Linked DNA regions of Homo sapiens: region 1 is linked to region 2. Evidence: fine-mapped expression QTL. A gene starts in region 2. The other region holds a variant in brackets. All regions are shown on one strand. Distances are from middle to middle. Region 1 has its middle 29 kb from the start of TMEM40. Region 2 holds the start of TMEM40 (transmembrane protein 40).

Evidence for each region. PIP is the estimated chance that this variant, and not a neighbour inherited with it, causes the effect. A credible set is the group of variants that fine-mapping cannot tell apart.
Region 1: its variant is the best candidate, but not a certain one, in a credible set for the expression of TMEM40 in whole blood (TOPMed, PIP 0.58).

The regions. Positions count from the first base shown.
Region 1 is chr3:12,727,064-12,732,503 of GRCh38, forward strand. No RefSeq gene overlaps it. Among named protein-coding and RNA genes, the nearest start is that of TMEM40, 29 kb to the right of the region's middle. The variant T/A (reference allele first, on the strand shown) is at 2,596.
Region 2 is chr3:12,756,814-12,761,813 of GRCh38, forward strand. It overlaps TMEM40 (transmembrane protein 40), which reads right to left and starts at 2,446. Exons shown (of 12, transcript NM_018306.4): 1 at 2,378-2,446. RefSeq lists enhancers at 1,314-1,493, 2,449-3,034 and a silencer at 3,059-3,148.

The sequences.
Region 1 (5,440 bases), 30 kb before region 2:
TGCTATGAACATTGGTGTACAAGTACCTCTTTGAGTCCCTATTTTCAATTCTTTTAATTTTTTTTTTTTTTTTTTTTTTTTGACAGAGTCTTGCTCTGTCGCCCAGGCTGGAGTGCAGTGGCACGATCTTTGGCCTGGCCAACATGGTGAAACCCCATCTCTACTAAAAATACACAAAAATTAGCTGGGCGTGGTGGCTTATGCCTGTAATCCCAGCACTTTGGGAGGCTGAGGCGGGCAGATCACTTGAGGCCGGGAGTTTGAAACCAGCCTGGCCAACATGGTGAAATCCTGTCTCTACTAAAAATACAAAAAAATTAGCTGGGTGTGGTGGCATGTGCCTGTAATCTCAGCTACTCAGGAGGCTGAGGCAGAAGAATCGCTTGAACCTGGGAGGCGGAGGTTGCAGTAAGCCGAGATTGTGCCATTGCACTCCAGCCTGGGAGACAAGAATGAAAGTTGGCTCAAAAAAAAGAAATAGGCAATTACTCTGCTGAGTGTTAGGAACTCCAGCCACTGGGAAAGCCCAGGGGGCTGATGGTGAGCACACACCTCAAGTCATACTGTGGATTAGACCTTTGGAATGTCTTCAAGTTTACCCTTCCTATCTTTTCCTGTGGCCACCGGTCCCCCCTGCCTCTAATCTCACCCCATTAGTCTGAGTCCTCCAAGAAGCAAATACCAGGATAAGATTAAATTGTGCTAGGATTTTATTAAAGAAAACACGTGTAGCAGGGAAACGGGGAGGGAGCTGGGAGGGTTGGGATGTAAGTCCAGCCCCAGGTGAGGAAGAGAGGGAAAGAGGGTTGGGTAGAAGGGTCCTAGTTGGCCATGCAGTCTAAGGAGGGTTTGGCAGGGTGTCGGGGAGTCCTTAAGCCAAAGTCAGCTCAGAGAAATCCCATGTCTCCTAGGAATGGGCCTGCCTTAGCATCCCACTCTTGGCAAAGTCATCAGGTGGGGGCATCTCAAGGGAACTGTGTCCTTGCTGCAAACAGAGTACAGCAGTGCTTGGTCAATTAGGATCCCTAGAGTTGGAGGCCTGTGAGGCTCATTCTCATCCCTCCACAGCCCCCACAGGGCTACCAGAGGAGTGCAGTGATCTTTCTGAAGTGCAGTCTCACTATGCCATTTTTCTGCTCGAACTCCCTCCAAGGCTCCCTGTTGTCCTTATGGTCCTTAGGCTAGTGTCTCAGCTCTTTATCTCAGGTATCAAGGTCCTGCTGGGGGAGGGGAGCAATTAACCTCTGTGCTCTGTTGCCCACCTGTCCTCGGCCCTACTCAGATCTTGGATGCCTCAACTACACTGGGCTGACCCCTTGTTGCTCTGAGACGTGCTATCCTCTTTTTTTTTTTTTTTTTTTGACAGAGTTTCGCTCTTGTTGCCCAGGCTGGAGTGCAGTGATGCCATCTTGGCACACTGCAACCTCTGCCTCCCGGGTGCAAGTGATTCTCCTGCCTCAGCCTCCCGAAGTAGCTGGGATTACAGGCGTCCACCACCACGTCCAGCTAATTTTTGTCTATTTTTAGTTGAGACAGGGTTTCACCATGTTGGCCAGGCTGGTCTTGAACTCCTGACCTCAGTGATCCACCCGCCTTGGCCTCCCAAAGTGCTGGGATTACAGGCGTGAGCCACCGCGCCCGGCCGTGCTATCCTCTTTTATTCCTCCACGCCTTTGCCCATGCTGTGACCTCTGCCTGGATAGCCCTTCCCTACATCTCCCAGCTCCAGTGTTAAGTGCTTCCCTCAGCTTCCTAGGTTTAGTCAGCAGCGTCCCTTCGCTCCATCTCTGGTACAGGCCCAGATCCTCTAGAGTAGACAGAAGATTCCAGGGGCTGTGTCGGGAGAACAGGATAAACAACCGCCACAGTCCTCTCGGACTTCTCTTGAAGGGACAGATGTCCCTTCAAGTCCCTTTTGGGCATATGCGCAGAAGCGTATGTGCAGAAGTATTAGTTTAAAAGCTGATAATATACCATGCTTTGTTTATTCATTCACCCATTGATGGACACTTGTGCTTCCCCTTTTTGGCTACTGGAAATAATTCTGCTTTGAAAATGGGTGTACAGATATCCCTTCAAGTCCCCTTTGGGCATATGTGCAGAAGTAGAACTGCTGGATCACGTGGTAATTCTATTTTTAGTTCTTTGAGGAATCACTATACTGTTTTCCATAGCAGAAGTTGAAATTGAATTAAAAAAAATCTTCCCGGCACAAGCTGGCTTGTATGGTTTTGAAATCTGTACTCTCACCCTCCCTCCACTGTGATCAAAGCAGAAATCTAGCACACAGCATCCAGGACAGCCAAAGACCAAAGCCCATCCCCTTCCACATAACCTCCTCCTCACCCCTCCACTTTTCAACGCTGCCTTCCTGGGCTCAAGATTCAATGCTTTATTTTTAGCCCACACGTTGGACTGGGGCTCCAGGAATGCACTTGATGCCTGAGGTGTAACCAGACCCCTGCGTGCACCACTTTTAGCTCCCGCCTTTAGCTTGACATGATAAAAAGCCTTCCACAAAGCAGCTGTAAGCTTGTGGGCCGCAGGCCTGATCCAGTTTTATTTAACCACTGATAATTTGAATTTTTTTTTTTT[T/A]AAAAAAGTGGTCTGGGTGCAGTGGCTCACGCCTATAATCCCAGCACTTTGAGAGGCCAAGGTGGGCGGATCACTTGAGGTCAAGACTTCAAGATTAGCCTGGTCAATATGGTGAAATCCTGTCTCTACTAAAAAAAAAAAAAAAAAAAAAAAAAAATTCCAGGTATGGTGGCAGGTGCCTGTAGTCCCAGCTACTTGGGAGGCTGAGGCAGGAGAATCCCTCAAGTCTGGGAGGCAGAGGTTGCAATCGTGCCACTGCACTCCAGCCTGGGCAACAGAGTGAGACTCCATCTCAAAAAAAAAAAAAAGTGGCCGGGCATGGTGGCTCACGCCTGTAATCCCAGCACTTTGGGAGGCTGAGGCGGGTGGATCACGAGGTCAGGAGATCGAGACCATCCTGGCTAACAGGGTGAAACCCCATCTCTACTAAAACTGCAAAAAATTAGCCAGGCATGGTGGCACGTGCCTGTAGTCCCAGCTACCCAGGAAGCTGAGGCAGGAGAATCGCTTGAACCTGCGAGGCGGAGGTTGCAGTGAGCCGAGATGGGGCCATTGCACTACAGCCTGGGCGACAGAGCAAAACTCTGTCTCAAAAAAAAAAAAAAGTGGTAAAATAGACATAAAATTAACCACCATAACCATTTTTAAGTGTACAGTTCAGTGGCGTTAAATACTTTCACAGTGTTGTGCAATTATCACAACCATCCATATCTAGGGCTGTTTTCATCTTCCCAAACTGACACTCTGTCCCCATTAAACACTAACTCTCATTCCCCGTCCCGCAGCCTCTGGCACCCACCATTCCACTTTCTGTCTCTATGAATCTGATTACTCTAGGTACCTCATATATATGGAATCATAACTGTATTTGTCCTTTTAACATAATGTTCTCAAGGTTTATCTGTGTGGTAGCATGTGTCACAATTTCTTTTTTTTTATTTTTATTTTTTTCTTAGAGACAGAGTCTTACTCAGCCACCCAGGCTGGAGTGCAGTGGCATGATCATGGTTCACTGCAGCCTCCACTTCCTGGGCTCAAGTGATCCTCCCACCTTAGTCACCTAAGTAGCTGGGACCACAGGCATGTGCCACCACGCTTGGCTAATGTTTTTATGTTTTGCAGAGATGGGGTTTTGCCGTGTTGCCCAGCCTGGTCTTGAACTCCTGGGGTCAAGTGATCCTCCTACCTCAGCCTCCCAAAGTGCTGACATTACTGGCATGAGCCAGTATGCCTGGCTAGAATTTCCATATTTTCCCCCTTTGGTTTTTATTTTTTTGTGAAGTCTCAAATAATTTCCTTTTTTAAAAACTGATAATATACCATGCTTTGTTTATTCATTCGCCCATTGATGGACGCTTGTGCTTCCCCTTTCTGGCTACTGGAAATAATGCTGCTTTGAAAATGTGTGTACAGAGATCCCTTCAAGTCCCCTTTGGGCATATGTGCAGAAGTAGAACTGCTGGATCATATGGTAATTCTATTTTTAGTTCTTTGAGGAATCACTATACTCTTTTCCATAGCAGAAGTGGAAATTTAAAAAAAAAAAAAAATAGTTGCCAAACTCTAGATTTGGGGCTTCTGCTAAGAAACTGGAGGTCTGACCCCAATGGTCTTGCACTTGCAGAACCAGCCTCCTCAGGCCCCTCAGAGACACCTCCCCAGCTAAGCAGTGCCCTTTCCCCAGAGGTCTGGGTCCCAGCTCTGGAGGACCCTCTCTCAATCTTCTCACACTTTATTTATTTATTTATTTATTTATTTATTTATTTATTTATTTATTGAGACAGAGTCTTGCTCTGTCGCCCAGGCTGGAGTGTAGTGGCGCTATCTCGGCTCACTGCAAGCTCTGCCTCCCAGGTTCATGCCATTCTCCTGCCTCAGCCTCCCGAGTAGCTGGGACCACAGGTGCCCGCCACCACGCCCGGCTAATTTTTTGTATTTTTAGTAGAGACAGGGTTTCACCGTGTTAGCCGGGATGGTCTCCATCTCCTGACCTCGTGATCCACCCGCCTCGGCCTCCCAAAGTGCTGCTGGGATTACAGGCATGAGCCACTGCGCTCGGCTATTTATTTATTTATTTATTTACTGAGACGGAGTCTTGCTCTGTTGCCCAGGCTGGAGTGTAGTGGCATGATCTCGGCTCACTGCAGCCTCTACCTCCCAGGTTCAAGTGATTCTCCTGCATCAGCCTCCCAAGTAGCTGGGATTACAGGTGCCCGCCACCAAGCCTGGCTAATTTTTGCATTTTTAGTAGAGATAGGGTTTCACCATGTTGGCCAGGCTGGTCTCGAACTCCTGACCTCAGGTGATCTGCCCACCTTGGCCTCCCAAAGTGTTGGGATTATAGACTGAGCCACCGCACCCAGCCTCTCACTTCTTTTTTTTTTTTGAGACAGAGTCTTGCTTTGTCTCCCAGGCTGGAGTGCAGTGGTGCGATCTCAGCTCACTGCAAGCTCTGCCTCCCGGGTTCATGACATTCTCCTGCCTCAGCTTCCCAAGTAGCTGGGACTACAGGCACCCGCCACCACGCCGGGCTAATTTTTTGTATTTTTAGTAGAGATGGGGTTTCATCATGTTAGCCAGGATGGTCTTGATCTCCTGACCTTGTGATCCGCCCATCTCGGCCTCTCAAAGTGCTGGGATTACATGTGTGAGCCACCACACCTGGCCCCGGCCTCTCACTTCTAATAGCTACAACCTCTTTCCTTTTTCTCTCTAGCCCTAGGCAGTTCCCTCAGTTACACTTTGTGATACTATGGTCCCTTTCTGCGTTTCTAGTAGTCCTGCACCTGGTTAACATGTCCCTCTATTAAATTCTTTCTGTTAAAGCACCTGGTGTGGTTTTCGT
Region 2 (5,000 bases):
ACACACACACTCTGTCTCTCACAACACACACCACACATATACACACTCTCTCTCTCACACACACACATACACACACACAACTGACAATAAGAAACAAAAAGGTAGCATCCAGCACAAGAGCTTGTCAGTTCTCTTGAACATCAGACAGACCTAGATCTTCAGTTCCCGCCTCTACCCCTCACTGACTCTGAGACCTGGAGCGTGTCACATCCATTCTCAGAGCTTCAGAATCCTTAGTTGGAAAAATGGGCATGCCTACAACTCAACATACAGTGACAAATAATCCAGTTTAAAAACGGACAGAGGATTCGAATAGACATTTCTCGAAAGAAGACACAGAAATAGTCAATAGCACATAGAAAGATGCTTCACATCACTGGGTGCGGTGGCTCATGTCTGTAATCCCAGCACTTTGGGAGGCTGAGGCGGGCGGATCACCTGAGGTCGGGAGTTCGAGACCAGGCTGGCCAACATGGAGAAACCCCATCTCTTCTAAAAATACAAAATTAGCTGGGCATGGTGGCAGGTGCCTGTAATCCCAGCTACTCGGGAGGCTGAGGCAGGAGAATCACTTGAACCCAGGAGGCAGAGGTTGTGGTGAGCTGAGATCGCACCATTGCACTCCAGCCTGGGCAACAAGACTGAAACTCCGTCTCAAAAAAAAAAAAAAAAAAGATGCTCCACATCATTAGTCATTAGGGAAGTGCAAATCAAAACCACCATGGGATACCCCTTCACACCCACTAGGGTGGCTTACCATAAGACATACAGACACTAACAAGTATTGGTGAGGGTACGAAGAAACTGGAGCCCTCATACATTGCTGGTCAGATTGTAAAATGGTGGTCACTTTGGAAAACAGTTTGTCAGCTCCTCAAAAGGTTAAAAAAGATTTACTACATGACCCAGCAATTCCAATCCCTAGTATATTCGCAAGAGAATTGACAACCTATATCCGAACAAAGACTTGTAATGAATGTTTATAGCAGCATTACACATAACAGCCAAAAATGGAAAAGCTGGAATTACAGGTGCGCATCACCATGCCTGGCTAATTTTTGTATTTTTAGTAGAGACGGGGTTTTACCATGTTGGCCAGGCTGGTCTCGAACTCCTGACCTCAAAGTGATCCACCCGCCTCAGCCTCCCAAAGTAATGGGATTACATAGGTGAGCCATGGCGCCTGGCCCTGAATTATACACTTTTAAAGGGTGAATTTTATAGTAGTGAATTACATCTCAGTAAATCTGTTATTTAAAAAAAAAAAAAAGAAAGAAAGAAAAAGGAAAGACTCCACCCACAGGATTGTTGTGAAAGTGAAATAAGGCAGGGAGCAGGGCAGGCCCAGCATGGTCCCTGACGTGCAGCCAGCACTTGAGATCTCTCTCTCTCTGATCCTTTTCACAAGGAGGATTTCCCAGCAAAAGTAACCTGGTGCTTTAGGGCTACACTAGCTTGAGTTCACTCCCCACCACTCCCACTAACACACACTCCTGACTCCTTAGTTAGGGCTCTGAACTCTTCTGGGCAGTTTCTTAACAAAACAGAAGAAAATAATAAGCACAAGACCATAATCATTCTCATTCCCCTTAAAAGGAAACTAGGTTGGCTTGAGGCCTAAAAGCCAGGGTGCTCTGAGCAGAGGTGGCTCTAGGACAAGGATGACAGCCTACGGGGGTGGGTGGGGGGAGCTCTGAGAGGTCTGCCAAGCCCCCCTCCCCTTGGGCCACACCACCTGTGCCTGAGCCCCCAACAGGCAGCAGGGCCCCCTCCCCATGGCCCAGCTCTCTGGCATATCCTCCCCGGGGGTGCCTTTGAGCTGGAGGCAGAGGACGGCTGACTTCTTCCTTCCAAGTCTCCCAAACCTGGCTGGCAGCCCAGGGTGGCTTCCTCCAGGAAGGGCAGAGAGAGGGGCAGCTGCCTGTAGTCACTGATGGTGGTGCAGAGGCTGAGACATTTGCGGGAACACCCCTCCCCTCCTAAGCTGTTAGGTTCCATAACAGTGAGGGTGTGAGGTGCCTTCAGAGATCTAGCTGGACCCTTCATTTTACAAGTAGGGAAACTGAGGCTCAGAAAGGTCAAGGGTTTTTCTGAAAGTCTTGCAGCAAGTTGGTGACAGAATTGGGAGCTGGTCACCTACCATGGCCAAGTATAGGCGGGTGGAAACCTCAACACAACCCAGGAAGGTGAATATTTGTCATCCTCCCCTGAAGTAGAGACAGGTTCTCACACAGCTAGGAAGATGCAGAGCTGGGACTCAAACCCAGGTCCACCAAGGAACCACACAATATCAAGCCTATTGAGGACACTCTTTCTCCCGATTTCCTTAAAAGCTGACACTCCACCCCACTGCTCACCCAGCCCCATGTCCCATTACCTGTGGTCCTTCAGCTTGTCTGGGCAGCAAGGGGAGCTCTGTGTAGACTATGTGGATGCTGGGCTGGTCAGGGGAAGGAGAGGACAGGCTGCACCTGTGACAGCAAGGAGGGCGGGACTACCGTGACGTTGTCCCTGGGCCCCACTCGCTCACTGGGATGGCATTCCTTCCTGCTGGTGCTATCAGCCCCAGGCCTTCCTGTCTGACTTGACTCTTCCCTACAACACTGCGGAGGGGCAGGTGGGGCAGCTACATGCCTGGTCCTGCCTCAGGGCCACAGCCATGCCTTCAGACTCCAGGAGACAGTGAAATGGGGGCAGCTGTGCCACCCTTGGCTGTACCAAGCTCTGGGAAGGAAGGAGGGGACGTGTCCCAGGTACCCCCTCCACCCACATTGGTGAGGCTGACTCAGGCCCCAGCCACGTGTCCCAACCTGCCCTGCGCGTCCCAGAGGGGAAGGAAGATATTCCAATGCTCCCAGGAGGCTGAGGTTGGGCAGGGAGCAGGAGAGAGGGCCTGGGGGCTCAGGAGACTGGCAGTGCCCACTCCTAGGGAGGAAACTGGGTTACAGCTAGAAGTACTTTTGGAGAGCACCCACTCGCCTTGTGCAAGTGGGAAAACACAGGTCCCTAGAGAGGTGAGAGGAGCAGTGTCAGACCTCACACAGCCGAGGGCAGGGCCCCAGCTCAGCTTGCCTCCACCTCTCACCTCTCACTTATCCAGCACTGTGGCAGCAGGACAGGAAACAAGTCCTACCACGGGAGCCCCCAGCCTTGGAGGGAAACAGGCAAGGCCCAGGAGCTGTGGGCTCCCCAGGAGGACTTCCTGAAGAGGGGTCTTCCATACCCTAAGCTCAGCCCCCAGATCTTGACACTTTGCTTTCTCACACTCTGTATCTGACCCATCTGGAAAATCCTGTTGGTCCTGCCTTCAGTATAGCCTGAATTCAGCCCCTTCTCTCCACTCCTCAACTGTCACCTTGATCCAGCCAGTGTCAACACTGGGCTCCCTGCTCCCCGCCTCGCCCCTGGCTATTCTCATCAGCCAGGCAGCCAGGGGGTCCTGTTCAAACCCAAAGCAGCTCATGTCCCTCCCCGCTCAGCAGCTGCCACACTCCCACTGCACTCAGGGTAAAACCCAAGGTCTTACAAGCCCCTGCGAGATCTTCCCCACACCTCTGGCCCTCTCTGACCTTGGTTCCCATGACTTCCTCCCTCACTCTGCTCCAGTAACACTGGAACATGTTCCAGTTCCCCTGGGTGGGCTCCCTCCTCAGGGCCTTTGCCCTGGCTGTTCCCTCTGCCTGGAGTGCTCTCCCCCTAGAAAGCCACCTGGCCCCCCGCTCACTTCAGCTCTCTCCTCACAAGTCACCTACTCCATGAAGCCTTATCTGACCATCCTGCTTAAAGTAGTAACCCCACACCAGCTTTCCCTCTGCCTGCTTCACTGCTCACCATCTGCTGTGCTGCATATTTTCTTGTTATGTCTATTTTCTCATTACGTATTGCTTTGCTACAGGACCTAGGATCATGTCTGACAGTAGGTGCTCACTAATTTTTTTTTTTTTTTGAGTCAGGGTCTCGCTCTGTTGCCCAAGCTGGAGTGCAGTGGCACGATCATCACTCACTGCAAACTCAAACTCCTGGGCTCAAGCCATCCTCTCACCTCAGCCTGCTGAGGAGCTGGGACTACAGGCATGCACCCCCACGCCTGGCTGATTTTTATATTTTTTGTAGAGACAAGATCTTGCTATGTTAGGCTGGTCTTGAACTCCTAGCCTCAAGCGATCCTCCGGCCTTGGCCCCCTAAAGCTCTGGATTATAGGCGTAAGCCACTGCATCTGGCCCTCAATACATTTGTTGAATGAATGAGTGACCTGAAAGGTTAGCCCAAGAAGTGTTCCAAGGATATTCCATGCAGAGGGAGCCATGTGTGAGGGCTTAGAGGTGAGGAGCACTATTGTGTGGAGGATCTGCAAATAATCCTGAACAGCCAGAGAGTGGGGGCCTTGGGGATGGAGAGGGGAGAGGAGGAAGCAAGAGAGGCAGGGCCTCAGCAGCCAGGCATCCTGAGAGGGATGGGGAGCCACCTGAGAGGGACATGACCAAACCTGTGTTTAAGATAAGAATTTTGCCTGGGAGCCGTGGCTCACGCCTATAATCCCAGCACTTTGGGAGGCTGAGGCAGGTGAATCACTTGAGTCCAGGAGTTCAAGACCGGCCTGGCCAACATGGTGAAACTCCATCTCTACTGAAAATACAAAAAATTAGCTGGGTGTGGTGGTGCATGCCAGTGGTCCCAGCTACTCGGGAGGCTGAGGTGGGAGGATCACTTGAGCCTGGGAGGTGGAGGTTTCAGTGAGCAGAGATGACACCACTGCACTCCAACCATGGCAACAGAGTGAGATCTCATCTCAAAAAAAAAAGAAAAAGAAAAGAAAAAAGATAAGGATTTGGCTGCTGCATTGTGGACTGGTGGAGAAGCTGTGAGGATCCAGCATCTGGGTGAGCATGAGCCATGCAGGGGAGATGGGGACTAGGGACAGGGTCGTGGGAAGTTTACAGCTCTGCTGTCCGAACAGTAGCCACCAGCCACATGCGGTTATGGAGCCCTTGACACATGG